2 separate regions of the Homo sapiens genome follow, and region 2 is linked to region 1. Evidence: fine-mapped expression QTL. A gene starts in region 1. The other region holds a variant in brackets. All regions are shown on one strand. Distances are from middle to middle. Region 1 holds the start of CD63 (CD63 molecule). Region 2 holds the start of OR10P1 (olfactory receptor family 10 subfamily P member 1).

The links. PIP is the estimated chance that this variant, and not a neighbour inherited with it, causes the effect.
Region 2: its variant is the best candidate, but not a certain one, in a credible set for the expression of CD63 in whole blood (INTERVAL, PIP 0.56).

Annotation. Positions count from the first base shown.
Region 1 is chr12:55,723,096-55,737,993 of GRCh38, reverse strand. It overlaps CD63 (CD63 molecule), which reads left to right and starts at 8,985. Exons shown (of 8, transcript NM_001780.6): 1 at 8,985-9,041; 2 at 9,642-9,718; 3 at 10,655-10,843; 4 at 11,030-11,104; 5 at 11,199-11,294; 6 at 11,733-11,873; 7 at 12,098-12,181; 8 at 12,368-12,671. The coding sequence starts at 9,653. The coding sequence ends at 12,433. It overlaps RDH5 (retinol dehydrogenase 5), which reads right to left. Exons shown (of 5, transcript NM_002905.5): 4 at 13,945-14,108; 5 at 13,289-13,672. The coding sequence ends at 13,449. It overlaps BLOC1S1-RDH5 (BLOC1S1-RDH5 readthrough), which reads right to left. Exons shown (of 6, transcript NR_037658.1): 5 at 13,945-14,108; 6 at 13,252-13,672. CD63-AS1 (CD63 antisense RNA 1) reads right to left here and starts at 8,900. Exons shown (of 2, transcript NR_183514.1): 1 at 8,639-8,900; 2 at 7,142-8,332. RefSeq lists silencers at 8,639-9,018, 9,289-9,588 and an enhancer at 8,553-9,159.
Region 2 is chr12:55,631,248-55,646,145 of GRCh38, reverse strand. OR10P1 (olfactory receptor family 10 subfamily P member 1) reads right to left here and starts at 9,254. Exons shown (of 1, transcript NM_206899.1): 1 at 8,313-9,254. The coding sequence starts at 9,254. The coding sequence ends at 8,313. RefSeq lists an enhancer at 8,916-9,417. The variant C/T (reference allele first, on the strand shown) is at 6,102.

The DNA of each region.
Region 1 (14,898 bases):
CTACATCTCGTTGAGATGTAGCAGAGGGGAGAGGCTTACTCCCCGGCTCTCCTGCTCTCCCTGCATGTGCCTCTGGGGGAGTGGGGAGGCTATTCTGGGCTAGGGGGTGGTGTGTTAGTAGAGTGGACCCCTTCCAGTCCTCTGCCCACAAATCCTGCAGCTCCAGAGAGGATGTCACTGTAATTACTGTCCTCTCCCACACCACCTTCTAAATCCTATAATTATCTTGCCGGGATCACTTGGCAGTCTTGTTAACCTCTTTAGCCCCAAGGCCCTCTAAGAGAAGTTGGGAGTTGGGAGAAGGGGGCCAAAGAGTTTGCGTTTGGGGTGGGGGGCAGTGTGGCAGGATACAACTGGGGGACTCTAAGAATCATTTGGGGTTATGTCTTCCTTTGCCTCTGGCCTCCCTCCTGCTTATCCCCAATCTGTCCCCTCTCTCCTCATGGCAGGCCAGCTCTACAACTCCACTGGGTGCAAGCTGCTGCTTATCTTCATTCTTGGCCTCCCTGGGGTCCCCACCTCTTCCCTGAGTTCTCACCTACTGCTCCCTCTCTGGGCCCATGGTGGGTCCTCATTACAGGCCCTGTTTCTGGCAGTGGCCAATGCTGCCAGCAGGAGGCACCACTATTCCAGCTGCTGCTCCAGGAAAAGAACGGGTCTAAGTGCAATGTCAGCTTCTCCAAGGACCTTAAAATGCTGGCAGATGGGCTGATCCAGGAGGCGACAAAGCAGTACCTGGGCTGCCAGGTGAGGGAGCTGTTGGGAAGCAGGGGGGAACTGCAGGAGTGTTCAGAGGGAATTCTCTCTCCAGAGGGAATGAAGGAGAAAGCAGAGGGTAGTGAAGGTCAAAGTTGTCAGATGAGGGGCATGTGTGTGTGTGTGAACGGTGAGGGTGTCAGGACGACCAGCGGGTCTGGCTGGGATCTGGGAATGGGAGCCTGAAATTGGTGAGGGCAGGAGAAACTGGTCTGGGCTCTACCGAGGGGTGCCAGCACTCCTCACCCCTAGTTCCCTGGGCTGCAAGACCACATCCATGGGGAACAACCCAACAAATTTGAGAACAGCCTGGGTGAGTCTGCCACAGGCCCTTCTTCTTTGGCAGGTATCTCAGGTCCTCTGCTGCCCCACTGCATCCCCCAGCCTGTGCTAGGCAGCTTCCAGAACCCAGGGGTTCTCTTTGTCATAGCCCTCTCACCACACTGTATTTTTTGTCTGTGCCTATAAGGTTGTAAGCACCCTGAAGGCAGGGACATGTCTTACTTATCTCCATGTTTAGGCTCCCCATACATGGATTAATACATGAATGAATTTTTCCTGAGCCCCTGCCTAGGCCTCTTGGCCTTTTAGTCCCAAGGAACAGAAACCTGAGATAACCACCCAGTCCCAGCATCACCTCTTTGTCATTTCTCCTATGTTTATCTCTGTTCCATCCTAGGAAAAACTTTAGTTGTGAGGCTCTGTGACTCTCAGGTAGATACCTCTGTGCTCCTGTGCCTGGTTCTGGGCCAGAACCACACAGCAGCTAAGATCCTGGCCAAGGGAGTGCATAAACAAGACATGAACCTGGACGAGGCTCTCAAGCAGGATGGGCTGGAGCTGTTCATCCTGCCCACTCACCAGCTGGGCATTTGGATGGACCTCGTTGTTAATGATGGCACTGGCTGGGAAGAGACTGGGACAGGAGTGACAATGAGGGGCCAGAGGTCAGGAACTAGGGGCCCAAGAAATGGGGAAAGGAATTGAGGCGGGCCCTGAGGACAGATCCTGGTGGGGGTGGGGCTGGAGTGTGGGGTTGCCAGAGGAGCTAGACCTTGGGGCTTGAATTGGGGGGTCTAGGCCAAGGCCAAGGCCAAGGTGAGTGTGAGGGGCAGAAGGAGGCTGGATTGTCCCTCCCACCCCTACCTTGGCTATGTCAGTTGGGGTGGGGTATCCAGATATTTCTCAAAGCAAAATCATTTTAATTCCCATGAGTCTGAAAACAGGGTATGATAAAGCCTCATCATTCTTTTTTGTTTGTTTTTTGAGGTCTTTGGAGAAGGACCTCAAAACGCTGGCAGATGGGCTGATCCAGGAGTGTTGCTCTGTTGCCCAGGCTGGAGTGCAGTGGCATGATCTCGGCTCACTGCAGGCTCCGTCTCCCGGTTTCAAGCAATGTTCCTGCCTCAGCCTCCCGAGTAGCTAGGACTGCAGGCACATGCCACCATGCCCAGCTAATTTTTTTGTATTTTTAGTAGAGACAGGGTTTCGCCATGTTGGCCAGGCTGGTCTTGAACTCCTGACGTCAGGTGATCCACCCGCCTCGGCCTCCCAAAGTGTTGGGATTACAGGTGTGAGCCACTGCGTCCGACCGTTTTTGTTTTTATAGAGATGGGGTTTTACCGTCTTGCCCAGGCTGATCTCGAACTCCTGGGCTCCTACCTCAGCCTCTCAAAGTGTTGGGATTACAGGTGTGAGCCACCACATCCAGCCAAGCCTTACCGTTCCTTTTTTTTGTTTTGTTTTGTTTTGTTTTTTTGGGACGGAGTTTCCCTCTTGTTGCTCAGGCTGGAGTGCAATGGCACCATCTTGGCTCACGGCAACCTCCGTCTCCCGGGTTCCAGTGATTCTCCTGCTTCAGCCTCCCCAGTAGCTGGGATTACAGGCATGTGCCACCACACCCAGCTAATTTGTATTTTTAGTAGAGACGGGGGCCTGTCCATGTTGGTCAGGCTGGTCTTGAACTCCTGACCTCAGGTGATCCGCCCGCCTCAGCCTCCCAAAGTGCTGGTATTACAGGTGTGAGCCACTGTGCCCAGCCACCATTTTTCTGTTATTTTTTTATTTTTTTGAGATGGAGTCTTGCTCTGTCACCCAGGCTGGAGTGCAGTGCTGTGATCTCACTGCAACCTCTGCCTCCCAGGTTCAAGCAATTCTCCTGCCTCAGCCTCCCGAGTAGCTGGGACTACAGGTGCATGCCACCACGCCCGGCTAATTTTTTGTATTTTAGTAGAGATGGAATTTCACTGTGTTGTCCAGGCTGGTCTCAAACTCCTGAGCTCAGGCTATCCATCCACCTCAGCCTCCCAAAGTGCTAGGTCACAGGCATGAGCCACTGCACTCGGCCTGGCCACCATTCTTAAAGTAATAAAACCAATTCCCTTAGTTTATTCTGTGATCCTCACAACTGCCCTGTGAGGTGGGGAAGGGAGTTGTTTCCCTCCTACTCAACTGGGAGAAAGCTGAGGCTCAGGGAGAGAGGTCACCCCATTCATGAGCAGCAGAACCAGGTCTCACACCAGGGCTTCTGGCCTCAGAGAGCTTCTTGCTGGCGGCAGGTGTGACAGCACTGGAGTGGTACATCAAGACCCTGGCAGGGTGTGGTGGTTCACGCCTGTAATCCCAGCACTTTGGGAGGCCAAGGCAGGTGGATCACTTGAGGTCAGGAGTTCAAGACCAGCCTGACCAACATGGTGAAACCCCGTCTCTACTAAAAATACAAAAAGTTAGCCAGCGTGGTGGTGGGCACCTATAATCCCAGCTATTCAGGAGGCTGAGGCAGGAGAATCGCTTGAACCTGGGAGGCAAAGGTTGCAGTGAGCTGAGATCGCGCCATTGCACTCCAACCTGGGCAACAAGAGCGAAACTCTGTCGGAAAAAAATAAAAAAGAATTAAAAAAATTAGCTAGGTGTGGTGGCGGGCTACAGCCTGTAATCCCGGCTACTCGGGAGGCTGAGGCAGGAGAATCACTTGAAACTGGTAGGCGGAGGTTTTGGGGAGCTGAGTGCCACTACACTTCAGCCTGGGTGACAGAGTGAGACTTCATCTCAAAAAAAAAAAAAAAAAGACCCAGATTCTTACGTGCAGGTTGATCTGTTGACCCTGAGTGAGTGGCTTTACCTCTCTGAGCCCCACTTTCCTGGAAGTGAGATAAAAAAGGGACTTTGGCAATATGTTCTTCTGGATACCATGGTAATGTAGTCTTGCCAATTATGAAGGGTGTGGCCTCCCCCAAAAAGTTGGAGCAGAGATGGCCACCCAGTGACTGGAAGACTCCTTTTTTTTTTTTTTTGAGATGGAGTCTCACTCTGTTGCCCAAGCTGGAGTGCAGTGGCATGATCTTGACTCACTGCAACCTCTGCCTTCCAGGTTCAAGCAATTTTCCTGCCTCAGCTTCCTGAGTAGCTGGGATTATAGGTGTGCACCACCACGCCCGGCTAATTTTTTTTTTTTTTTGAGACAGAGTCTCGCTCTGTTGCCCAGGCTGGAGTGCAATGGCGTGTTCTCAGCTCACTGCAACCGCCGCCTCCCGGGGTTAGAGTGATTCTCCTGCCTCAGCCTCCTGAGTAGCTGGGATTACAGGCGTGCGCCACAATGCCCGGCTAATTTTTGTATTTTTTAGTGGAGACGGGGTTTCACCACGTTGGTCAGGCTGTCTCGAACTTCTGACCTCGTGATCCGCCTGCCTTGGCCTCCCAAAGTGCTGGGATTACAGGCGTGAGTCACCGCCCTGGCCACACCTGGCTAATTTTTGTATTTGTAGTAGAGATGGGGTTTCACTGTGTTGTCCAGGCTGGTCTCAAACTCTTGACCTCAGGTGATCCACCCGCCTCGGCCTCCCAAAGTGCTAGGATTATAGGCGTGAGCCACCGCGCCTGGCCTGGAGACTCCTTTGTGTTCCCCAGTCTCCACCAACCAGTAAATACATAGTGGTGATGTCGCCATGGAGCCCGTGCACAGTACTCCCCTGGGGGCTGCACTCAGTGCTGGTGCTGGGGCATATAACCTACTCTCTGGAGAGCCCTGCGGGATGGTCTATGAGCTTTTCTGCCAGCAGGACCTGCAAACGCGCAGGTGCAGCCCCTCCTTCACCCTGCGATCTGAGAGATGCCATCAAGCACCGTGCCTCTATCCTTATCCAAAGCTGAGGCCTCTGGACTTAAATTTCAGGCCCCCATTTCAGACCCAACCTCTGGACCTTGAATTTTATCCACCACTCTCCTTACCCTCCCAGTGGGGGGATGGCTTTGATGATGCATCCTTGTTTCCTTCTTCCCTCCCATCCCTATCTCTTCCTCTTCCCTCTCCCCACTCCTCTCTTACACCTATTTTTCAAAAATTAAAGAAAATGTTTTTTAAACTGAAGCCCAAGAAGCATTGATCCTTCATGTATTTTTGCCTCCTCTTCCCCCATCCTTCCCCATGCCTCCCACCCTCCTCTATGTCTCTCACTTTCCGGTTTTTCCTCACCCCTCTCCCAACTCTCCTCAACTGTTCTTTTCCCTTGATTCTGGATCCCTTCTTTCTTCCTCACCTTCCTCATATCCCCTCACCCTCCTCATATCCCCTCACCCTTTCCTGTGCTTAGATGCAGGCTACAAGCTGCTGTGCATGGCACTGGGTCTGGCTGATGCCTACATGCTCTCAGAAGGCTGCAGGTTTGCTTGAGACATCTGTGGCCCCCATGCTGTGTCGCTGGGCCTAGGTGGAGGCGTGGTGAAGCTGGAGGGAAAGCTGGCTTTGCTTGGTGTGGAGGGACAAGGGTCCCCGCCTCAGCACACCTACCACCAACTGGTGCCAGGCAACCAAGAGGCAGCAGCCTGGGCCAGCCAGGACGGCTTGGTGGCATATCTGGATGTCAGGCACTTGGAACAGGTGCTGGGGGATCTGAAGGATGTGAAGGGCCAGGTCTGAGATCAGCCACTTCCCACTAAGAGGCCCCTCTATCCTGCACCCCAGCAAACACATGGAGCTCTGTGTCAACTTTCCAGGCTGTAGAAGTGGGCCATTCTTTGTGTGTATGTGTGTAGTAAAATATATATAACATAAAATTCAGGGACATTGAGTACATACACATTGTGCAACCATCAGCACCATCCATCTCCACAACATTTTCATCTTTCTTTCTTTTTCTTTGAGACAGAGTCTCGCTCTGTTGCCCAGGCTGGAGTGCAATGGCACAATATCGGCTCTACTAAAAATACAAAATTATCCAGGCATGGTGGCGCATGCCTGTAATCCCGGCTACTCAGGAGGCTGAGGCAGGAGAATCTCTTGAACCTGGGAGGCAGAGGTTGTGGTGAGTTGTGCCACTGCACTCCAGCCTGGGCAACAAGAGCAAAACTCCATCTCAAAAACAAAAACAAAAACAAAAAACCTAGATGTTTATGGTTAAGGAAACAAATTAATAATAATAAAAAAGATAATATCGATTCTTACAAAATACAGTAATTAAGAAAATTAATCCTTTATCACAAACTTTTGTAGCAGAGCACATCTCTCCATATATACAAGCATTATACCGAGGGTGAATGTGTTCCTCCTCTTACTTTTTTTTTTTGAGACAGAGTTTTGCCGGGCACAGTGGCTCACGCCTGTAATCCCAGCACTTTGGAAGGCTGAGGGGGCGGATCACGAGGTCAATAGATGGAGACCATCCTGGCCAATATGGTGAAACCCCATCTCTACTAAAAACACAAAAATTAGCTGGGCGTAGTGGTGCGTGCCTGTAGTCCCAGCTACTTGGGAGGCTGAGGCAGGAGAATCACTTGAACACGGGAGGCGGAGGTTGCAGTGAGCCAAGATGGCACCACTGCACTCCACCCTGGTGACAGAGCGAGACTCCGTCTCAAAAAAAAAAAAAAAAAAAAGAGAGACGGAGTTTCACTCTTGTTGCCCAGGATGGCATGCAGCAACACGATCTCTGCTCACTGCAACCTCTGCCTCCTGGGTTCAAGTGATTCTCCTGCCTCAGCCTCCTGAGTAGCTGGGACTACAGGCACACATCATTGTGCCCAGCTACTTTTTGTATTTTTAGTAGAGACGGGGTTTCACCGTGTTGGCCAGGCTGGTCTCGAACTCCTGACCTCAGGTGATCCACCTGCCTAGGCCTCCCAAAATGCTGGGATTACAGGTGTGGTGAGCCACTGCGCCTAGCCCCTCCTCTTACTTTGGGGAACATCCTACTCTGTCTATGGAGCAGCTGTTGTTTCACCACTTTACTTTCTTAATAAACTTGCTTATACTTTGCACTGCGACTCGCCCTGAATCTTTCTTGCATGAGATCCAAGAACCCTCTCTTGTGGTCTGGATTGGGACCCCTTTCCTGTAACAAATGCATTGGCTGATAGGAGAATAAAGAAAAAAAAAGAGGAAAAACTAGAGTAACTTCTCTACATAATCATATTATATGACCGTTTTGTTAACCATGATAACAGTTAACAAAATAATTTTCTTATGTCTAATTCTCAGTCCATGTCTGTATGTCCCAAAATGTCTTTCACAGCTGGTTTGTTCAACCATTCAATGAAGGACCAAACATTGCAGTTGGTTGTTATGTATCTAGTCTCTCAATCTTGATCTTCAGACCACCTTCAGCCCATCTCACCACATCCGTCCCAAGCCCTTTGAGCCAGCCAACCCCAACCTGCCATGTACTTTACAAAATGCTCCTTTTTTTTCCACAGTCGACTGCTTCTCTGTCCCTGGAGCTCTCCCCTTTATTCTCCAAGGTCACCTTGAGCACATCCTTCTGCTCCGTGAAATCCATTCTCCTCTCCCTTTCCCTCCCTCTGAGCTTAACCAGCTGCCACCGCAGGCTTCTGCCTTTCTTCACAGTGTGGCCAGAACTCGGTTCTGCCTGCTAGCAGAGGGCAGGGCCGCTGTCTTCCTCTCCTTGCAGCCCCCAAGCCTAGCACATGCCTGGCATCTAGTGGCAGCACAATAAGGAACCTGATGAATACTCCTTTCTTCTGCTCTCCGCTCCTCCTCCACAGCCTGCCAGCCATGGTCAGGAAGAGCAAGATCCGGAATGGGCTTGGTGTGTCCCGCGGGAAGGCCGTGATCCTGGAAGATGCTTCTCAGCCCAGCCCGGATCTCCTTCCTTTAGCTCTAGAGACTTCTTTCATTCTTTGTGTACACACATACACTAAGACTCAGGAAGTGGTTCTTGAGGCAGGACCTTAAGAGCCCAAGGAGTGGGGCCGAGGCTGGAGGTGTGGGGGTGTGACGGCCGGTCCTACTCTCCGGCCTGTTCAGATCAGCTCCTTCTGGGGACCACCCCTGGCACACAAGGGAGGGAGGCAGCTTGATCCCCCTAGCCCGCTTCCAGCCCTCACCTGGCTTTGTCTTCTGGGATAAGACGGGGAAATCCAGAGGATGTAAGCCTCTCCTGCCTTCGTGTCTTCCCCCAAGCCCTCGCTATCACAGACGGATGCAGGAGCTGTCTGGGAGGCTGGAAGCACAGACCTTGTCAATCCTCCCCCAGAGGGCGGGACCCGACGCGGACGTGTCTTGATTGACTGGGTAGCGTGGCTTCGGGGAAGGGCTTCCTCCCCTTTTCTCAGACTAGGATCCCTGGAAAATGGAGAAGCTGTGCTAATAGAGGGGGGCCAGAAATCCCCACTCTAGAATGCTGTAGAATGTTGGGAGACACCCAGGATGTGAGCCAGGGACTTTCTGGAAGTGTTTGTTCTGGCCCCACCCGACCCCAGGCAGTCCCCAGCTGTCTGCACAGTCGGATGGGGAGGGGGCTTGCACAGAGTTGGAGCCAGAGGAGAGAGCTGGCTCATCCCCTACGGTAGGATGGGGAAACCTCACAGACCACATTGTCACCCGGCCTCAGCTCTCCGCCCCGGCGCTCAGAGGGTAACTCTCACCCACCTCGTCCGCTTCTCTGAACCAGAGTGACCCAGGCTGCGCTCCGCCCCGCTCTCCTACCCCGAGTTGGCACGGAGGTATAGCGCCAGAGGGGGGCCCCAGGCGCCCCGAGGTCTTGCCCTTGCGGCTTTCCCTTTGCGGGGGTGGGCGCCTTCTTCCGGGTAGGGGCCACGTGGCCCTGGCCGGGCGGGGGGCTCGGCCCACCCCGCGCCGGGCCCAGTGACTCAGGCCGCAGCTGTTACCGCGTCACATGAGGGAGGCCGGCGGCCACTCGGCGGGGGAGGGGACCGTGGCTGGAGCCCGGGGCGGGGCCGCGCGGCAGGCGGGGCGGGAGCCGGGGGGCGCAGCTAGAGAGCCCCGGAGCCGCGGCGGGAGAGGAACGCGCAGCCAGCCTTGGGAAGCCCAGGTGAGGCCGCGGGGACCCGGCGGACTTCGGCGCGGGCTGGGAGAGACCACCCGCAGTCCCTTCCTCCAGGGCTCGCCCCAGGCCCGCGGAGACTCGTCCGGCGCTCTCCAGCCGCCCTGGAGCAACTTTGCTTCGAAGTTCCCTGGGCCCGGGCAGGGTGTGGCGGGGGTGCTGGCTGCACTTTTTTTTTTTTTGGTGGGCGGGGAGGTCAGAGCCCAGGGGAAAGGGGCTGGGGCGGGGGTCGGGGTTGGGCTGAAGACCGTTTCTCCAGGCTGGGTGTTGGGTGGGGAAAGGGTGTTTGACGCCCGGAGACTGGCGGGCCGAGGGTCGGCGTCAGGCTCAAGCCCCTGCCGGCGCCCTTGGATCTGTCCTGGGCCCCAGAGGCGGCGGGGCGGGGTCCGGGCTTCGCGGCCGTCGCCCCCACCCCTCTCCTGCGGGTAAAGAGGGGGCTGGGAGACGTGGATCCGACCGCGGGTTTCCGGGTGGGAGGGGCCGGGAATCGGGGCCGTGAAGGGAAGCCCTCGAGGGCCGGCCGGGAGCCCGGAAACCGAGGTCCCCCTTCGGCCAGTTTTAATCCCCCCGCCCTCCCCTCTGCCCCAGGCCCGGCAGCCATGGCGGTGGAAGGAGGAATGAAATGTGTGAAGTTCTTGCTCTACGTCCTCCTGCTGGCCTTTTGCGTGAGTGGCGAGGGGTCCTGGGGGGCGCGCCGGCAGGGTGCGGGGAGACCTGGCTCCACAGTGGTGAGGGCTGAGGGAATGAGAATTAAGGCAGCTGGAGACCAGATGTGGAAAGAAAGCCAGGGAAAGACAGCGCAGCCACTCCCTCCTCCAGTTTTCCTGGACACCTGAGGCTTGTTTCCACCGAGAATGGCCATCCTGGGTGTGCAGCAACCCCTACCCCCATCCCTCCTGGCCCTTCCTGTCTGGTGACCCAACCACTTGTGATATGGGGCAGTGGGGCAACCAGCCAACCGCCTGATGCTATCGCCATGGGGCTTCCCTTCGCTCTCCCTTCTCCCCTCTCTCCCTCCCCAACCCTCTCATCCCTGTCCAGCCCCTCTCCCCCTTTCCCTCCTCCCAGCGCTTGGGGGTGAGGAAGGGCTCTGCCCACTTCAATTTGCTCCTGCCCTGGGCTCCTGGCTTGAGAGGCTACTGTTTGTCTAGGGAGGGACACATCACTCTTGCTCCCTTTTCCTCTTCCCTTCTCCTGGCCTAACTGGCCAGAGGAACCTTAGTCACAGCTGATGCGCGCGTGGGATGTGCACTGGAGGATAGTGAGGGGGCAGTTCTGGGAGAGAATTGAGCTGGGAGCCCTGGAGGCCTGTAGAAAGCATTATTCTAGGTCAGAAATACGTGTCTTGAGGTCAAGGCTTTCTGGGAGGTTTTTGAATTTGGTCATGTCCCTGATTAAAGAGCCGGGAGGGGATCAGGGGAGGTAGGGGCAGGCAAGGATGGGTCATCCCCCTACCCCACAGCCAAAGAAATTCCCTAGAGGTGTGAGAATCTCTCTTCCGGATGGGGTCAAGTCTGTGTCCTAGGTGTACCCCCTGCCCTCCACCATGGAGGGCCACTGTGTTGTGGATATGGCCTAATCCTCACCTGATTTTCTCTTAGGCCTGTGCAGTGGGACTGATTGCCGTGGGTGTCGGGGCACAGCTTGTCCTGAGTCAGACCATAATCCAGGGGGCTACCCCTGGCTCTCTGTTGCCAGTGGTCATCATCGCAGTGGGTGTCTTCCTCTTCCTGGTGGCTTTTGTGGGCTGCTGCGGGGCCTGCAAGGAGAACTATTGTCTTATGATCACGGTGAGTTGGGGGCGGGACCAACATGGGCGGTCTGGGACTGCCAGAGCAGCTTGGTTCGGGCTCAGGAAGGTGGGTGAGGTGGGTGGGTGAGGAAGACCTTTGTGAGTGTCCAGGGACCGGCTGTGCCAAAACGGGCCCCTGTAATGCATAGACTCCAAACTTGACTTCTGTCCTTTGCTCCTGCAGTTTGCCATCTTTCTGTCTCTTATCATGTTGGTGGAGGTGGCCGCAGCCATTGCTGGCTATGTGTTTAGAGATAAGGTAAGCAGGGAATAATGGGAAGGGCCTGCCTCAGCCGGGTCTGGGACCCTGGTGCTTGAATTCTGACTGCAACAGTGCTCCTCCGTACTCTCAGGTGATGTCAGAGTTTAATAACAACTTCCGGCAGCAGATGGAGAATTACCCGAAAAACAACCACACTGCTTCGATCCTGGACAGGATGCAGGCAGATGTGAGTGGGGTTGCTGGGAGCAGGGGTGGTGGGAATAGAGAATTCTCATCTCCAAGGCTGGGTGTGGTGACTCACGCCTGTAATCTCAGCACTTTTGAAGGCCGAGGTGGGCAGATCACCTGAGGTCAGAAGTTCAAGACTAGCCTGGCCAACGTGGTGAAACCCTGTCTCTACTAAAAATACAAAAATTAGCCAGGTGTGGTGGTGAGTGCCTGTAATCCCACCTACTCAGGAGGGTGAGGCAGGAGAATCGCTTGAACCCGGGAGGCGGAGGTTGCAGTGAGCCGAGATTGAGCCACCGCTGGGCACTTGTCTGGGCAACAGAGCAAGTCTCTGTCTCAAAAAAAAAAAAAAAAAAAAAAAAAGAATTCTCATCTCCATATTGAAGGTGAAGGTTCACTTAACAACCTTCTTCTCCATATTTCTTCCCTCCCCCAGTTTAAGTGCTGTGGGGCTGCTAACTACACAGATTGGGAGAAAATCCCTTCCATGTCGAAGAACCGAGTCCCCGACTCCTGCTGCATTAATGTTACTGTGGGCTGTGGGATTAATTTCAACGAGAAGGCGATCCATAAGGAGGTAGGGAGGAGACTGTGTATGGGACTTGGGAAACCTGGGAAATGTTTTAGAATGCAAGAGACCCAGGATGGAGGTGGACAGGGTCAGGGATGGGGAGGGGATCTGGAAATGCTAAGGGTGGGGTGAAAGGTACAGGGGCAGGGAAGAGACTGATGGACCAAGGGAGGGGGTTGGGGTGGGAAGTTTCTGATGGTGCTTTTGTCCTTTGTGCCTGCCACCTTCAGGGCTGTGTGGAGAAGATTGGGGGCTGGCTGAGGAAAAATGTGCTGGTGGTAGCTGCAGCAGCCCTTGGAATTGCTTTTGTCGAGGTAAGAGATAACCCTGAGCAGGGGCTGGGACTCTGTCCAGGGTGCCTGGAGGGAAGGGGCTGAGGGGAGGAGGGTGCTGAACAGGAGGTACTGGCCTGGGAGTGTGTGTTTGGAGTCTCTTGCATGGGTCTGAGGTAGCTAGCCCTTCTGACTCCTCTCCACCCCTGTCCCCATCTTTCCTTCTAGGTTTTGGGAATTGTCTTTGCCTGCTGCCTCGTGAAGAGTATCAGAAGTGGCTACGAGGTGATGTAGGGGTCTGGTCTCCTCAGCCTCCTCATCTGGGGGAGTGGAATAGTATCCTCCAGGTTTTTCAATTAAACGGATTATTTTTTCAGACCGAAAAGAGATGGTCTGAGTTTGTCTTAGAGTGATGCTTGATTCCTTCCTTTCCTTACTGATGTTCCCTGTCCTCTGGGACCTTAATGCATGTGTACTTCGAGGTCTATTTTGGGGGGTGTTTGGGAAAGGAGGACTTTGCGAAGGTGTTGGTTGGGCAGGCAGTGGGAGAAGTGAGGATCCAGAGACTGTGGTGCTTTCTGCCCCCTAGTCTTATGCTGCCAGGCTCACTATGAACATTCATGAAGCCATCTGCTGCATAAGTCAAAGCAGCTCCCCAGAAAGGTCCCACCTGCGAGAGCCCAGCCCCCATCTGCCTTGGACATCTTCCTGGCCTTCTGTGCACCGCTAAGGGCCCAGCACCTCCCTTCCTGGCCAATCCTCAAGGGATCCAGCTCCTTTCGAAGTATGATAAGTTGCCTTGACACCTGTGTGGTCAGTGTCCTTAGCAGGAGAATTTATGTGAATATTGCCTTTTCTTCCATGGAAGCCACCCAGCCTGGCCCAGAACCCTCATCACCTGCTCTTCTCCCCCAAGAAATATGAAGACCATTCCCAGTACAGACACTGAATTGCAACCTTACTCCCCTTCAGAAAATAAGGGAAATGTATTAAAGTGCCCTTTGATGGCCACTCCCCGACGTGCAGCTGTAGATGTGAGGCAGTTCCCTGGCGCCCCACTGTGGGTGCTAGCTGTTTTGCAGGGACTGAACAGGCCAGAGACCGTGAGCATGTCGGTTTGGAGTAGTTGGCACTTAAATGGGGTCAGCCTTCCACTGGGCACATTTCTGCCCACCTTCTTTTTATTTTTTAAACAATACACTTTTGTTAGTGCTTATTTTGTGGCAGGCACCAGGCAGTACCAGGGTGGGGGCAGAAATAAATCAAAGTCCTTGTCCTTGAAAAACAATCTCTTGCTGGAAGGCTGGATTCAGTAGACTGCTTGGGCAGGCTTGGGAAGGACCCAGGTGAGCACAGCATCCACCAGGCTGGCTGGCAGGTAGGAGGCAGGCAGCCAGAGCAGCTTGGCATCCCAACCTGGGCTGTAGCGGGTTCGGGGGTGTCGAGCAGTCAGGGCATGCTCCAGGCATCGGCTCACCTTGGTTAGGTCCGGGTCACAGATCAGGTTCATGATGCGCTGTTGCATTTTCAGGTCTGCAGCCCCATAGGTGGTTGCAATCAGTTTCCCTTCCTCACTCCAGCCCATCTTAGGTACTGTCTTCTGGGGCCCTGGGCTTGTCACCCTCAGTCCCCTCCTCAGTGTGGGGAGTGGGCAGGTTCCACATGGCCTGGGCACTCTTGTAACATCCTGTTCACCCTCAACCCTGCCCTGGGTGCCCCACCCACCTCCTAGCAGGCTTATGCAGGACTGGCCTTTCTGGTACTTGTTTCCCTTCATGTGCCCCTGTGTGGGCCTGGCTACTCACACTTGGTGAGGAAGGCCCCCCCATAGTGGGCCTGTGTGGCAGGAGGCAGCCGTGCCCAGCAGGCCTGCAGGGTTTTCTCCAGACTCTCCAGGTTGGTCACAGGGGTTCGGAAGAAGCCAGGCTCCACGATGGAGACTCGTATCCCAAAATGAGCTACATCCCGCCTAGAGTCGGGGCAGAGCGAAGTTGCTGGGTTCTTGCCCTATAGGGAGGGGACTTTGAGGGACATGGGTTGGGGAGCTGAGAAAGTTACCACAGACCAGGGACAAGAGTTTTGACGGAGATGCCTACTGCCCCGGGACAAGGGTCAAGTGGGGTAGAGGGAGGAAAGTATTTTTGAGGTTTGTTTTCTTTGATCTAGAGCAGGGGTCAGCACGTTTTTTTCTTAAAGGGCCAGAGAGTTAATATTTTAAGCATGGCAGGCCAAGAAACAAAATTAATGATATTATCAGGTACTTATATAACAGTTTACAATGTAACCATTTAAAAATAAAAAAAACCATTATCAGCTTGTAGGCAGCTGGCCAGATCTGGCTTGAGTACTGAGTTTGCCGATTCCTGACCTAGAGGAACCCCATTCCCTTGCTCCCAAAACACATGGTTGAGCCCTGAGTGCTGGATATTGAAGGGTATAGTCTCGTATTTGCTGGAGGGTAAGCTGATGGGGAAAGTGGGGATACATCCCACTGCCCTGGCACAGATGTAGAAATCCAAGTATAGGTAAGGAGCAGGAGGGAAGGGGATAAAAAAAAATTCAAGTATAAAGTATGTGTTCCAGTATGCAGTGGCTCACACCTATAATCCCAACACTTTGGGAGGCCCAGGCGGAAGCATCGCTTGAGGCCGGGAGTTGGAGACAAGTCTGGTCACCACAGCAAGACCCCATCTGTAAAAAAATACTAGCCAGGCATGCTGGCACGCGCCTGTGGTCTCAGCTACTCAGGAGGCTGAGGC
Region 2 (14,898 bases), 92 kb after region 1:
TGACAAAGGTCTAATATCCAACATATATAAAGAACTTCGGGAGGCTGAGGCAGGAGAATGGTGAGAACCCGGGAGGCGGAGCTTGCAGTGAGCCGAGATTGCACCACTGCACTCCAGCCTGGGCAACAGAGTGAGACTCCATCTCAAAAAAAAAAAGAACTTAAATTTATAAGAAAAAAAACCAAACAATCCTACTAAAAAGTGGGCAAAAGACATGAATAGACACTTTTCAAAAGAAGACATACATGCAGTCAACAAGCTTATGAAAAAAAGCTCAACATCGCTGATCATTAGGGAAACGCAAATCAAAACCATAATGAGATACCACCTCACACCAGTCAGAATGGCTATTACTAAAAAGCAAAAAACAAAAACAAAACAGATGCTAATGAGGTTGTGGAGAAAAAGGAACACTTGTATACTGCTGATGGGAGTGTAAATTAGTTCAACCATTGTGGAAGACAGTGTGGCAAGGAAGAGAAGAATGGGGAAGGTATAGATACTTAATATTCTTATGATGCAGAAAGGATCCAATGAAGACACAAACTCACTTTTCCTCAGTTTACCAAGGACTGGGTGGGACATATTTGGACTGGAAGTACACTATGAATACCAGGGAGCAAAAAGCCCATGTCTGTCCTTGGGAGTAGGGGACATCAAAGAAGAGAATAGATTTCTTTCTTTTAGTGGAAAGTCTAGGAGTAGAGGATAAGGAGCTGGCTAAGGAAGGCTGACCAGAAGGCTGGGTTGTAGATAGCACTATGACAGGGTGGTTTGGAGCTTGCCTCTGGTGGTTGGCAAGTCCAAGATCAAATCCTGATCATCACTTACCATCTGAAATAGTGGGAGTTTTCTTTACATCTTTGTGCCTTAAATTCTGCATCTGTAAAGTCATGACAATAATCGTTTCTATGTATCACAGGGTTGCTGTGAGGATTAAACACAGCCTTCCTCAGCCATTCTATACCACATCATCACTTGACATATAAATTAACTTGTTTGTTTGTGGCTTCTCTCCTTTCATTAAAATGAGATGTACCATAAAGGGGGAAGGGAAGAAACTGCCTGTCTTGTTTACCAGTGTATCCCTAGTGCCTGGCACATAGTAGGTATTCAGGAAATATTTGCTGAATCGATAAGTAAATGAATATATGAAAGCTGCTTAGCACAGTGCATGTAGGTAATAGTGTTCACTAATCTATTTCGATTATACTATAATTGCTACTACTATCATTTGCCTTCTTATGAACTTTGATGATGACTTTCAGAGCAGTTTTTAGATGTCTTAAAAGTTTGAGACTTTGTTAAAAAAATCCCCCTAAAGTTGCTGGAAAGTTTAAAATGTGTTAATGCTGAAGAGAGGAAGGGGAGAAGTGTGTGTGGGATTTGGGGAAGAGAGTTTTTGGAAAAGAGGAAATCCTGGTGTGAGCTATGAGGGGGATAACTCAGAAAGGATCAGATGGGCCATAGGGGCCATGAAAGAGGAGGAAAGAAGCAGGTGAACAATTCTGGGTTAGAGAAAACCTGACTCTGGTAGCTCAAGGAGTTGAGAGGAATCTTGGAAAACCAGGCTTAGGCAATGATCAGGTACCAAAAGAAGCTGAGAGGCCAGAACCACAGGCCAGGTCATAGCACAGGGGTGGTTGGCTAGGATGCTGCAGGCACTGCTGGCACTGTTGCCCGTGACTCCTCTGGCACCGTGCAGGTGCTGAGGCTGCTGCTGGTGGGCCTGGATGCCACTGTGGTCATCACCAAAATGAATTGTAAACTTTACTTCTTTGAATCACTTGCACCTGATTCAAAGTCTTAGGCAGTTGCATCTGCTAGGACTAGCTAAGATCACAGGGCTGTGTCTCGGCTGTCAGAGTTTAGAGAATCCACAAATTTGGGCCTAATGGCTTCTGTAGAAGTGGATAGAGCTTTGTCCCCCACAAGCTCTATCCACTTAGAGCTTGGGGGGAAGACCCTGTTAAGTTCATGGATGGCCTCCTTTCCTGCCATTATGACCCTTCTATTTGTAGGCCTATTAAGAATGAACTGGGGCCAAGCTCAGTGGTCCACACCTGTAATCCTAGCAATTTTGGAAGGCCAAGGTGGGAGGATCACTTGAGGCTAGGAGTGCAAGACCAGCCTGAGTAACATAGCGAGCCCTCATCTTTACAAAAGTAAAAATAAAAAATTAGTTGGAGGTCATGGCATGTGCCTGTGGTCCTAGCTATTTGGGTGGCTGAGGCGGGAGGATCACTTGAGCCTAGGAGTTCGAAGCTGCAATGAGCCTTGATTTTACCACTGCACTCCAGCCTGGGCGACAGAGCAAGCTCCTGCTCCCACATCCCCATACCCCCCAAAAAGATTGATTTGCTGGAGAATGAGGTATATGCAACCTCCTTTTGTTTTCAGGCTGTGCTTGGGCCCCATCTGATTTTACCAATTTCACTTGTCTATTAAGTGCTATTGGGGATACTTAACTTTAGGGTGAGTGGGTCAAATTACACCCAATTCATGGTGTGCAATACTGTTCCATAGTCACCTGGTGTCCAGTGGTCAGCTGTTCAGTGTATACTGTTGCCTACAAGCAGCCCAAGAGCAGTTTCACAAAAGGATCTTGATTGTTTGCCCCAAAGGGCAAGGTTTGGCTCCCAAATCTGTGATTCACCTCTTGGATTTACCGCAGGCTCCAGTGCCACTGACACTGAGCCTCTTACAGTCTGCTGGGCAGTTGGGAGGCCCAGTGGCGGAACTGCAGCGTGGGCCACTGGGAGAGCATTTGCTTCCTCTGGCTTTTAGGACATCCGATAAGTGGGTTGAAGCAGCCAACCCAAAAGGACTATATGTCGCTTCCCAAATCCAGATAACTACAAGAGGTCTTTTCTTACTGTAGGGAGCAAAAGGTGAGGCAACTTGTCCGTAACATTTGAGGAGATACCCTGATATCCCCAGAAAACCTTCACAGAGAGGCCAGGCCCCTAAATTTATCTCCTAGTTATAAATGTACATCAAGGGTACCTGCCATTTTCCTCTCTCCAGATGCTGTCAGTGTAGTTTCATCAATAGAATGGACCAGTGTGGTGCTCTACGGGGTGGTGACCTGATGAAGGTGCCTGTGGATTTGGTGGCGCAGAGCGAGAAAGCCGATGTAACCCTGAGGCAGGATAAGAAGGGTGACCTTGTGCCCTGCCAGGCAACAGCAAGTGGCTTCTGGAATCTTCTCTGCTTATGAGACGGGAAAAATTGCATTTTCTTTCTCAAGATTTGCATACCCAGTCCAGATGAGAGGAAGTGGCTTCCAGCAGAGGAGGCTCTCCTGTCCCCGCCCCCCACACCGTGTGTCACTGATCTCATTTTCTTGCCTCTGTTTATGCTCCTTAGCTCCTTGGCTGCCCTCATCTTTCTACTTTCTCTAAACTCACGTTTTTGGAGGGAGAATTGAAAGCATGGGCTCTAGAGCTGGAAACTCAAGTCTGTTATTTCCTAGCTGTGTTACCTAGGGAAAGTTGTTTAATGTCTCTGTGCCTCGGTTTCCTCAACTGGTTGAAATTGGCATAACAATAGAGTTGACCTACAGGTGGACCTACTGTCAAGCTTAAGCTTTTGGGGCTCTTCATTTGTATGGGTTCCTCATAAAGGTGTGGAAAGAGCCTTAGCAATTGTGTTCCTGTGGTCAAATGTCCTTATATAAATTGCAGAAGTGATGTGTTAACTGCAGGCTGTTGTAATGTCTGTCTTTTTCACTCTTGCTTCCTCTCTGTCACATTTCCTCTTCTTCTGGGGGGTGTTGAAGTAGCCATGGATATTTTTTATTAAATAGAGCTGTCTTAAATTGTATGAGCTTTAGGTCCCATAAAATTGAGATCTGTACCTCGTAGAGTTTTTATGGGGATTAAATAAGACAGTTACAGGTTAAGAGGTTAGTATAGTCTTTGGTACCTAGCATGTATGTGATGTTACCTATTCTTATTACTATTCATTCTGGTTTGACTGTCTTTCCATGCTTCCTGTTCAGATTCTAATCATCTCCAAGTTCTGCCTGCTCCAGATCACTGCACCGTATCTCTCTATCTTTTCAGTAGAGAGTGTCTTGGCCACCTGGATCCTGGTTGCAGCAGTGGCATCTCTGGGGGACATTTGTCTTTTTTTCTGTCTGTCCAGTGCCTTTGGAACACCCTTTCAATGTTTGGGAAGTTTTATGCCTCACTGGTCTTCATTCCCCAAGGTAAATTGCTTTTCCAGATTCTACAGAGGAGGATGCAGAATTCACCATCTAATGAGCTTGTAGGGAAGGCATCTGGCAGAGCCCAGGCCTGTCGTCCCGAGAGCCAGCTGTAGGCACTGGGCAGTGCTGTGTGAACTGTGCTGCCAGTGCCGTGGAGTTGACACTGGAGCTGCCCTTGCGGGTGCTGAGTGTCACCCTGGCCACACGGCTGGTAAACCTGTTCCCCTTGGAGACGCTGTGCACTGTGAAATCTTCTTTGAATAATTAGTCTCTGCTTAAGATGATCAGAGTGGAATCTGTCGTTTGCAACTAAGTGCCCTGACTGATGGACTGGTTTGTGGTCTCTGTGTCTCTTTTTGGTGCCTCTATTACCTATTTTCCATACCACAGCTAGAGTGATCTTTTAAAAACTCAAACCTGGTCTTGTCACTGAGGATGAGCCCCCAAGTTCTCAAGTGGCCCACAACATCCTTATGGTCTGTACCCAGTGGAGGTGGGAGCACTAGTAATTACCCTGATCCTTAGGCTTTCCACAAGGTGAAGGGATTTTTTATTCCACTCCCAGAGAGAAACAAGTGTAGAAACACTTCCTGCCGTCCTCTCTGGCCCCTGACTTGCTTCTTCATAGGTGGAGGAGTGACCTTAGTTACTCATGGTACTGTAGAGAGCATTTTTGCCTTCTTTGGTTTTTCTTTCAGGCTGTCTTGCCTTTGGCCACATGTACTCTTTTCCCTTCAAATGGTGAGCCCCTGCTTGGAGTGACCTGTAATTTGTATGGATCCTCTGTCTGTAACTGGGTGATAGTGGTGAATGCAGGGAGTATGACATTTATTTTGTTTTATTATTTTAATTAAAAAAACCTAAATAGAGGCAGGGTCTCGCTATGTTGGCCAGGCTGATTTCAAACTCTTAGTCTTAAGCAATCCTCCTGCCTTGGCCTTCCAAAGTGCTGGGATTACAGGCATGAGCCACTGCACCTGGCCTATTATTTTAATTGATACATAATAATTGTACATATTTGTGGGGTACACTGTGATGTTTTAATACATGTATACACTTGTGTAATAAGTAAATCAAGATATTTAGCATATTGTAAACTAAAGATGAAATCCCACGCCCCCCACCCACTGAGAAACCTTAAAAACGGAGTCCTCAGCCATGATGGCTGCTTTCATGACTGACATGGACCTCTGGCTACCGGTGCAGCCATGGCAATCACTGTGCTCAGGGATCCAGAACAATCTAGAAGATGGAATAGAAGGTCAGACACACTTTATTGTACCTCCTCTCTTCTATGGTTTAGACACAACAATTGACCAGCATTAATGTTAAAATAGAGGTCATGAGATTGACAGAATAGACTCTTTGTGGCAATAATATATCAAATTATGAACAGGACTTAAGGCCATGCCAGGCAAAGGTTAAGTCACACATTCCTACACTTAAAGAATAAACTATGTTCTAACTGCCACAAGGTTTTCCTTTTTCTCTAGCAGCTAAACAAGCTCTGGCTTCGAGATAAGCAATAGCAAAACAGTTGTAGCTCCTCCACCACCAGACACTTACTGGCTGACTCCCCTGTTCCACAAGCCATAACTACAGCTTTGATTGGCCAAATGATTGATTTCAGTAACTTTCTCCTGATAAGAAGACCACTGCCCAGGGGCTGCTTCTGGCCAGTTTACAGAGGCTGCACACTTGAATGCCTTTGTGTCTCTGCTTCACCTTTTGATGTAAGGGTCTAAATTGTAATGCACGTAAATGTTAAGTTTGCACCCCAAGGTGAACATGGGTCATATGCTACATATATGTTTATTTAGCACCTACATGTTAGGACCACCTTCAGGAATATTCCTAGCTCCTCCCGTAACCTACTGAATGTGTACAC[C/T]TGGCCAACCTGCTTAGCACATAAATCCCTGTTCCACCTGCCTCTCCCTCGAAGTGCCTGCCTTTTGGGCTTTGGCTGGAGCCTATGCTTCCCAGCCTGTTAGAATGGCCACCTTACATGCTGTAACAGTTTTTAAGAAATAAAGCCTCCTGCTGGGGGCGGTGGCTCACGCCTGTAATCCTAGCACTTTGGGAGGCCAAGGTGGATGGATCACTTGAGCTCAGGAGTTCGAAACTAGCCTGGGCCACATGGTGAAGCCCCGTTTCTACAAAAAAACAAAAACAGACAAAAAAACCCCAAAATTAGCTGGTATGGCAGCATGTGCCTGTAGTCCCAGCTACTTGGGAAGCTGAGGCTGGAGGATCACTTGAACCAGGGAGGCTGAGGTTGCAGTGAGCCAAGATCATACCACTGCATTCCAGCCTGGGTGACAAAGTGAGACCCTGTCTTAGAAAAAAAAAAAAAAAGAAATCTCCCTTTCTAAATTTATAATTACCTTATGCCTTTATCATTTCTTTGTGGTGAAAACATTCAAAATTCTCTATTCTAGCTATTTTGAAATCTACAATACAATATTGTTACCTGAGGTCACCCTATGGTGCCATAGAACACTAGAACTTATTCCTTCTAAACGTACCTTTGTATCCACTGACCAATCCCTCCCTATGTCCCCTTCCCCACTTCCTTCTCCAGGCTCTGGTAACCACCATTCTACTCTCTATTTCTAGGAATGAGAACAACTTCATGAGACTTATTTTGACTGGATCATCTGAGGTCAGGAGTTCTAGACCAGCCTGGCCAACATAGTGAAACCCCATCTCTACTGAAAATACAGAATTAGCCGGGCGTGCCTGTAATCTCAGCTACTTGGGAAGCTGAGGCAGGAGAATTGCTTAAACCTGGGAGGTGGTGGAGGTTGCAGTGAGCCGAGACTGCGTCTTTGCACTGCAGCCTGGGCGACAAGAGCAAAACTTCATCAAAAAAAAAAAAAAAAAAAGAAAAAAGAAAAGAAAGAAGTGGGTGCAGAGGCTGGGCTACAGAAGAACACACTGATTCCCATGGCTGAATACTCCTTCGCACAAGAGCAGAGCCTCTGTGAGGGATAAGGACTCCTTGAAGATCACAGGGGTGGTAAGAGGGAAGACTGGGTTCCCATCATTTCCTGAACAGCTCATGTTATTGATGAAATGTTGAGGTCTCTCCTCACTGAAAGCCAGAGTTTCTGGCATTTCTTGGCTAGAGGACACAAAGGTGGTAATGATGTGTGAGAGGTGAGGGAATAGAGGGGACGTGGAACAGCCTGTCTTTTTGCCTCGGCCTTCTGCTGCCCTTTAGCTATGGGGGGCTCCAGGGAATAAAGCAGGAGAAACATCTGTCCCTGGGCTGAGGGAAGTGGGCAGCCGGTGGCACCTCAGCACAGAGGGATGGGAGTGTTTTCCTTCCACCTTGTCTTGCTTCTGGCTCCCTGGTTAGCTCCAGCTCTGGATCCTGCCTCTCAAGCTGGTGGGTCTTCTGGAATCCCTGACCAGCTCTTTCCCAAAAGCACCCACAGTAGGACACCCCAGTGTGTTTCTGGGAGACATGTATAGGCTGTCCTGGGAGATAACTTTTCCTGATGTTTAACTTGGTCCTTTTTGATACCATCTGACCATCTTCCCTTTTGTGCTGGTATCTTGGGAAGGAGAGAGCCTTATGACTGGAACCCTCAGATGCCCCTCTTCCTGAAGGCCAAGGGGAGAACAGATGTTCCACTGAGTAGAGGAAAGCTCAGACACAGGTGGTGGAAGAAAATGTAACAGAGGGGCTAGGTAAACTCCTCCACAGGCTTTGGGTGGGCCACTTAGTTGGATGTCAAGTTCACAGACACCTGCTTTCATGACTGACATGGACCTCTGGCTACCGGTGCAGCCATGGCAATCACTGTGCTCAGGGATCCAGAACAATCTAGAAGATGCTAAATAAATGTCCTTTCCCTAGGGCAGCAATCACTTTCATTCTACCTTGACCTAATAACCCATGCTCTGATAGTGAGTGTGGACTCTGGGATAAGAGGCAATATGTAGATTTATCTCTGTTTTAATTTCAGCACTTTCTTCCAGGAAGCCTTTTCCTTTGAGGTGCTGCATGATTTCTGTGAGAGTGGGGTTTAAATCCAGTCCCTGAAGAGTGGGAGGATGAGCACTGAGTGAGTGAGCAGACATCCGAGTCCCTTCAGGGTGAGGGGCGCTGCCTCTTCACCAAGTGTCGCAGGGCCCTCCTCACGTCCTTGTTCCGAAGGGTGTAGATGATGGGGTTGAGCATGGGTGTGATGACTGTGTAGAAGAGACTGAGGACGCGGTCTGTGGTAACAGAGGAGCCTGCCTGCGGCCGGATGTAGGTGATGCTGGCTGTTCCAAAGAAGAGAGAGACCACGAGCAGATGGGAGGAGCAGGTGGAGAAGACCTTGCGGCGGCTCTGGGTGGAGGCCATTGCTAGGATGGCACCCAGGATGCGGATGTAAGAGGTGACAATCAGAGAGAAGGGGATCATAATGAAGACTATGGTGGCTGTCATCACGGAGATCTCGCTCCTGTGCTTCCCAGCACTTGCCAGCCTCAGTACTGGCAGGATGTCACAGAGAAAGTGCGGGATGATCGGGTGGCTGCGAAAAGGTAGAGAGAAGATGAGGGAGGCATGGGTGGTGGCCGTGATGATGCCTGTGAGCCAGGAGGTACCCACCATGGCCATGCAGGCCCGTGGGCTCAAGAGGGTGGAATAGCGTAGGGGCTGGCAGATGGCAACATATCGGTCATAGGCCATGGCCGTGAGCAGGCAGCACTCCGAGATGCCCAGGACAATGAAGACGTACATCTGGGCTGCACAGCCCTGGAAAGAGATGGCCTGGGGATGCGGGGAGCCCAGATTGGCCAGGGTCCTGGGCACGATGTCAGTGGTGTAGAAGAGCTCCACCACTGAGAGTTGGCGCAGGAAGAAGTACATGGGGGAGTGCAGGGCAGGGCTGACCTGTGTGAGGAGGATGATCAGGGAGTTACCCAGCAAGGTGACCAGGTAGACCAGAAGCACCACCCAGAACAGGGGGCCCTGCAGGGCCTTGAGGTCAGAGAATCCCAGAAGGAGGAATTCAGGCAGTGTAGTATGGTTTTCCCCAGCCATCACTCCAGGCCAGAAGCTGAGGCACAGCCAAGAAGAGAAGTTATTTAGAAATAACAAGCAACATTTCTGTAATTTGGTAAAGCACTTGCCACACAGTTCCTCTCAAAATCAAGTGAGAGAATTAATACCTTTCTCTGAATGAGCCATGGGTCTCAGAGAGATTAAATAATGTGTCTGAGGTAATATCTAGAAAGTGGCAGGCCTGGAACTTGAATCCAGGTCTCTTGACTCCAAATTCGACGCCTTTCTCACTGTTTCCTGGGCTCTCGTCCTGTGTCTGGGGCCTGACTCTCATATGTAAAGACTCTAGCTCTGATCTTTGGATCTCTCTCCAGAGTGAGGGGTGAAGCAGCTGCTATGACCTAGGCCCCTTTGTACTCTCTAGATGGATGCTGAGGCACAAAAGAAACTGGGTAGCACCAGGGACTGTCCCGAACTGGTGTCTAATGTTCACCATAGTGAGCTGTGGGTTAAGAGTGTCACACAGTGATATGACTATTTGTGATAATACTGCCCAATGGTATCATTGGGATTCTGACACCTTCCCTGATTTCTCTGTTCTCCTCTTATCTGGGGCCCTGTGATCAGCTACACTAGCTGTTCTGTCCCAGCACACCCTGTTCTGTCAGGCCTCCATGCATTGCCATAGTGTCTCCTTTCAGAGGATATTTCTATTCTTCATATTAAAATCCCATCACACTTCAAGCCTTCACTCAAGTTTCGCTATCTCGGTGGCAGCTTTCTGTGATCCTCAGGCTCAGAAATAATTATCCATGGCATTTCAAGATTAAAAGTGACATTTAGGAACATATATTTCCATATGACAGTACTTGGATCTTATCTTCAACATTTTAGAAGGGTGCTGTGCAGAGTCTGTTTGAACATCTGCAGTGATGGGGAACTCACCACCTATTGAGGTAGCCCTTTCTAGCTATGGCCTCTTCTGCCTGTAGGAAAAGACTTTACTGTATTGGTCTTGGCTAAATGCTTAGTATTTCATACAATATTTAACTCCTCTTGCACCAGAGAGCCCTTGAGTATTTGAGGAAGGCACTTTTATCTCTGCTTTCATGAGATGTTGCTTGTCCTTTTGTCCTAGCACTTATTACTCCACTGTGAGATCCTGCAGGACGTGGTGGGGAGGTGGGGAGGCAGTTACCTATTTTAGCAGCTGCTAATGTTTCCCAAGTGCTTGGTTCCTGCCAGGCACCATGCTAAGGGCTAAACATTCATTAAATCATTGGATCTTCCTAATTACACTACGACATAGAAACCTTCATTTTCTCCATTTTACAGATAAGGAGAGGGAAGCCCAGACAGTGTTAAGTAACTTTCTCAATGTCACACATTTTGTAAGTGACAGAGTTTGGGTTCAAATCCAGGTCTGCCTAACCCCAGAGCCTGTGATCTTAACCACCAAGTTATCAACTGCCTTGGAGGTTAATCACCAGTCAAAAAAAAAAAAAAAAAAAAAAAAAGAAAAAAAAAAAAACCAAGGCCAGGCGCAGTGGCTCACGCCTGTAATCCCAGCACTTTGGGAGGCTGAGGTGGGTGGATCACGAGGTCAGGAGATCGAGACCATCTTGGCTAACGCGGTGAAACCCCGTCTCTACTAAAAATACAAAAAATAAGCTGGGCGTGGTGGTGGGCGCCTGTAGTCCCAGCTACTCAGGAGGCTGAGGCAGTAGAATGACGTGAACTCAGAAGGTGGAGCTTGCAGTGAGCCGAGATCGTGCCACTGCACTCCAGCCTGGGCGACAGAGTGAGACTCTGCCTCAAAAAAAAAAAAAAAAAAAAAAAAGAGGTTAATCACCAGAAAAACAAGCTCAGTACTTGGACCATGTCGAGTGTTCGCTAAACATTTATTAGATGAGTGAACGAATCTCAGTTATAAAGACAGAGGAACTGATAAATAGAACAATTAAGTGATTTGCCTAAATTTAGGCAGCTAGTTTGACAAAGACAGGAAACTGGACTGGACTTTCAGAAGTCCTGGTCCCAAGATTCACGGAGCTTTGATCACCCATATTGACCCACGCCATGAGGTTAGTCTGGCCATCTTCATATTTAGGAAACAGAGCCTCAAAGTTCTATCCATTGCACTTAACTTTCATCCCACCCTCACTCTGCTCTCTCAACATATTTTTTTTTTTGTGGCCTTAAACCATTTATTCTAGCTTATGTTTGGAGAGTGCTGTGTGCTGGGGATTATACAGTATATCAGTTGACCTTTATAACAACATTAGTGACAATTGTTATTTTGTCATTGCAGATAAAGAACCAGAGCTCTGAGGGTTTAAACGACCTATGCAAGATCACAAAGTCAGTGAACAGCAGAACCAGAATTGTAATTTTGAGCCTGAGGTATCAACCACATACTTACTATATGTCTTGTGAGGCCAATAGCCTCACTCTACACTTTTGGGAGATGAACTTGCATGTAGTCAGTTTGGACAGAAGGAGTATCTGAGTTCATTAGTCCTCTCTACTTTCGTCCATAAATCTTCATGACATTTTGGGCTGGCTGATTAAAAAGGAAAAAAAAACTTTTCAGATGTCCACACCACCAAGAAAACACGAAATAGATCCTGATGTTTTCAAATTTTTAAAATGTTGTTTTTTTCAATTAAAAATATTTAGGAAACATTTGGAATAAATCCACCATTATTCCATCACCTTAAATTCTTTTTTTCTCATATATCACTCTCAAGTCTTTGTCCCACTGCAAACCCATATTCTATGCTTGTAGTCATAGTGTATATACCTTATGTCTTCTTTTCCTTTTTTAATGTTTGCTGTAAGCATTTTGCCATGAGACCGCATGGTATTCTGAACAATCTTTCAAAAAAAATTCTTGTAGTAGTCCATTGAATTTCTCCACTAACATTTAACAAACGCTTCTCATCCTTGTGCACTTTACGCTGTCCCATCTTTTTTTTGCTATGGTAGACAATGATGAAAACAATATTTTCATGTGTGTCTCAGTTTGCTCTGTTAGCTTATTCCCTTAGGGTAAATTAAGAGTAATATTATTGGCTAAGCATGTGGACATTTTTATGGGTCTCGCTGTGTTATAATTGTTTTGGATTCCTGTAGCTGGACACATGAGTGGCAATACCAACCTTTCATCTCTTAGTAAAACAGGTCCCTTAAAAAAAATTCAATAGCTTTAGGGGTACTAGTGGTTTTTGGTTACATGGATGAATTGTATAGTGATGAAGTCTGGCATTTTAGTGCACCCGTCATCCAAATAGTGTACATTGTGCCAATAGGATTTTTTTTTTTTTTTCCCCTCAGCCCTCTCTCACCCTGTCCTCTTCTGGACTCCTTGACCCTCCCTGTCCTCATCCAGGCCTGTCCCTCCCTCCATACTCACCTCACCTTTTCCACACTGTGAGCATTTCTTCACTCTCAGACCTCTAATTAGATTTTGCCTTAAGATGTCGTCCGTGAGGGTGGAGAGGCAAGTTTCCCCCAGATTGTCTGTTCTTCCTTCCCTATTTCCACTCTGACTCTGATAATTTCCCTTTTCCTCTTCCCACACATCCTGACACAGTTGGGACAATCTTCAGAGAGACATTGGCCCTGAAGTCACCACTAAACTTTTCAAAGCCTCCCACAGAGGATCGCTGAGAAAGACAGAGTAACTGCCCGCAGGGTCACAGAGAGGGGATGAAGTTCTTTTTAAAAAACACTATTTTTTATTGTGGTGAAAACATATAACATAAAATTTACTATCTTAACCATTTTAAGTGTATGTCTCAGTATTGTTAAGTATATTCAACAGAGCTCTAGAACTTTTTCATTTTGCAAAATGAAAACTCTATACCCATTAAGCAATTCTCCATTTCCCCCTTCCGTGGCTCTTTTTAAAACCATAAAACCATCCGTATACCTCCAATAAGCCTTAGAGAGACAGGCAGATGGCAAATTGATCAGTGAATGGGCATGTGGCTTGGGGAACAGCTAACCTGTGGTTAACCAGCTAGATGGACAGAGGATGACCAGCAGGGTGTGGCTGGCTGGCTACAGGACTGGTTACCCGTGACCCCTGGATGCAGGAGATGAGGCTGTTAAAGGCTGAATGGAACAGAAAGCAGATCTTGAGGGGTAGCTTTGACATCTTGGGGGCAAGGGAGTTGGGATTCTGGAGCCTAATGGGGTTGCGGGAAATGGGGGAAATGAGGGAAGGACAACATTTATTGGGTCAGAGAGGTCTGGGGGAGCACAGCCAGGCAATAAACTAGCTTTTGTTCTTTCAGATTTTTTGTTTTGTCTAAAGTATTAATGGGAGCTGCACATGGTGTATATGTGTGTGTGTTGGAGAGGGTGTGGGGCAGCAAAGGAGGATGCAGGCAGCTGTCTGTGGGATCTGGGATGGGACCCATTAACAGGAGCCTGAGAGATGCTGACCATAGACAGTACTGAGGCTGTGATGCCCAGCTGACTTACACACTGCACGCAAACCCACAAGCCTGTACACACTATCCACTGCCTCACTCCATCACTTCACCCCACACACCCCATCCTATTAGACATACCACAGACATGCCTATGACACGATCACCACACTTATAACATGCTACACATACCCCACAGCATACCTACTCACACCATACATAAAAGGTTTGCACAGTCTGCGTATATACACACTTGCCTTGTTCTGTTATGTGCAGTTTTATCTGGCAGAAATTGTCCAACATTCTCTGTCTCCTTCCCAGCCCTTCTCCCTGTCCAGCCAGCTTAATGATATCTGAATCACACCTCTGCAAATGCAATAGTAGAGATTTGGGAACCGTCTCTGGACTTTTTTCTCCCACGCCCAGGGACAGATACTGACTCCCAACACACAGCAAGAGGTCCTAAGGCCCTGAATGGGCCCTGATCTGCCCACTGTTCCTCTTCTCTTCCTGTTTTTGGCAGGGTCTAGATGCATCAGAGAAAGGCCCAAGGCTGCTTGGCACTGTGTGGAGCACTTACCCAAGGAGGTGAAATTGTCATCCTGCCAGGGAGGCGGGCTGTTGGGCACAGGGGAGGCTCTGCTGTTGCCCTCTCTCCTCCCAGGAAGCCTCAGCCTCTGTGGCGCCCATAGTCATTCTCCAGCTGGCGTTGTGCCTCCACCCTGCTGGAGATTTGGGAACCCCTGACTCTTGGGGTTTCCCTGGGTAACCCTGAGCTGAGACAGTGTCATGGGCCAGATAATTCTGTCTGGATCCCCAGTGCCTGCTGTGTTCTCCTCCTGTCCTTAGGCTCATTGCCCTTGGTCAACTTCCTGACACCGTTTTTCTCTGGGATAACTATTGCCTCCCCACTCATGAAGGGTCTCTTTGGTTACAGACGGCATGAGGTTTGAGGGTCTCTGTCCCTCATGTCTAGAGTCTCATCCTGGGAATTAACTCCCGTGAGTGAAATCTCAGCTTCCTGTTAAATGTAGATGCTCCTGGAGAATTCTAGAGGCTATGCCAGTGATGTCATTGATCTCCATGCTTGGTTTGCTTTTTTGGAAGAAAGTGTTCCAGTGAGGAGACTGCCTGTCTGCTTATCCAGGGGCTCACAGGAGGGAGAGCTGGGTTTCCATCAATCCCCAATCTCCTATGTCATTGCAGATGTGCTGAGTGGGGAACTTACACAGAGAGTTCAGCCT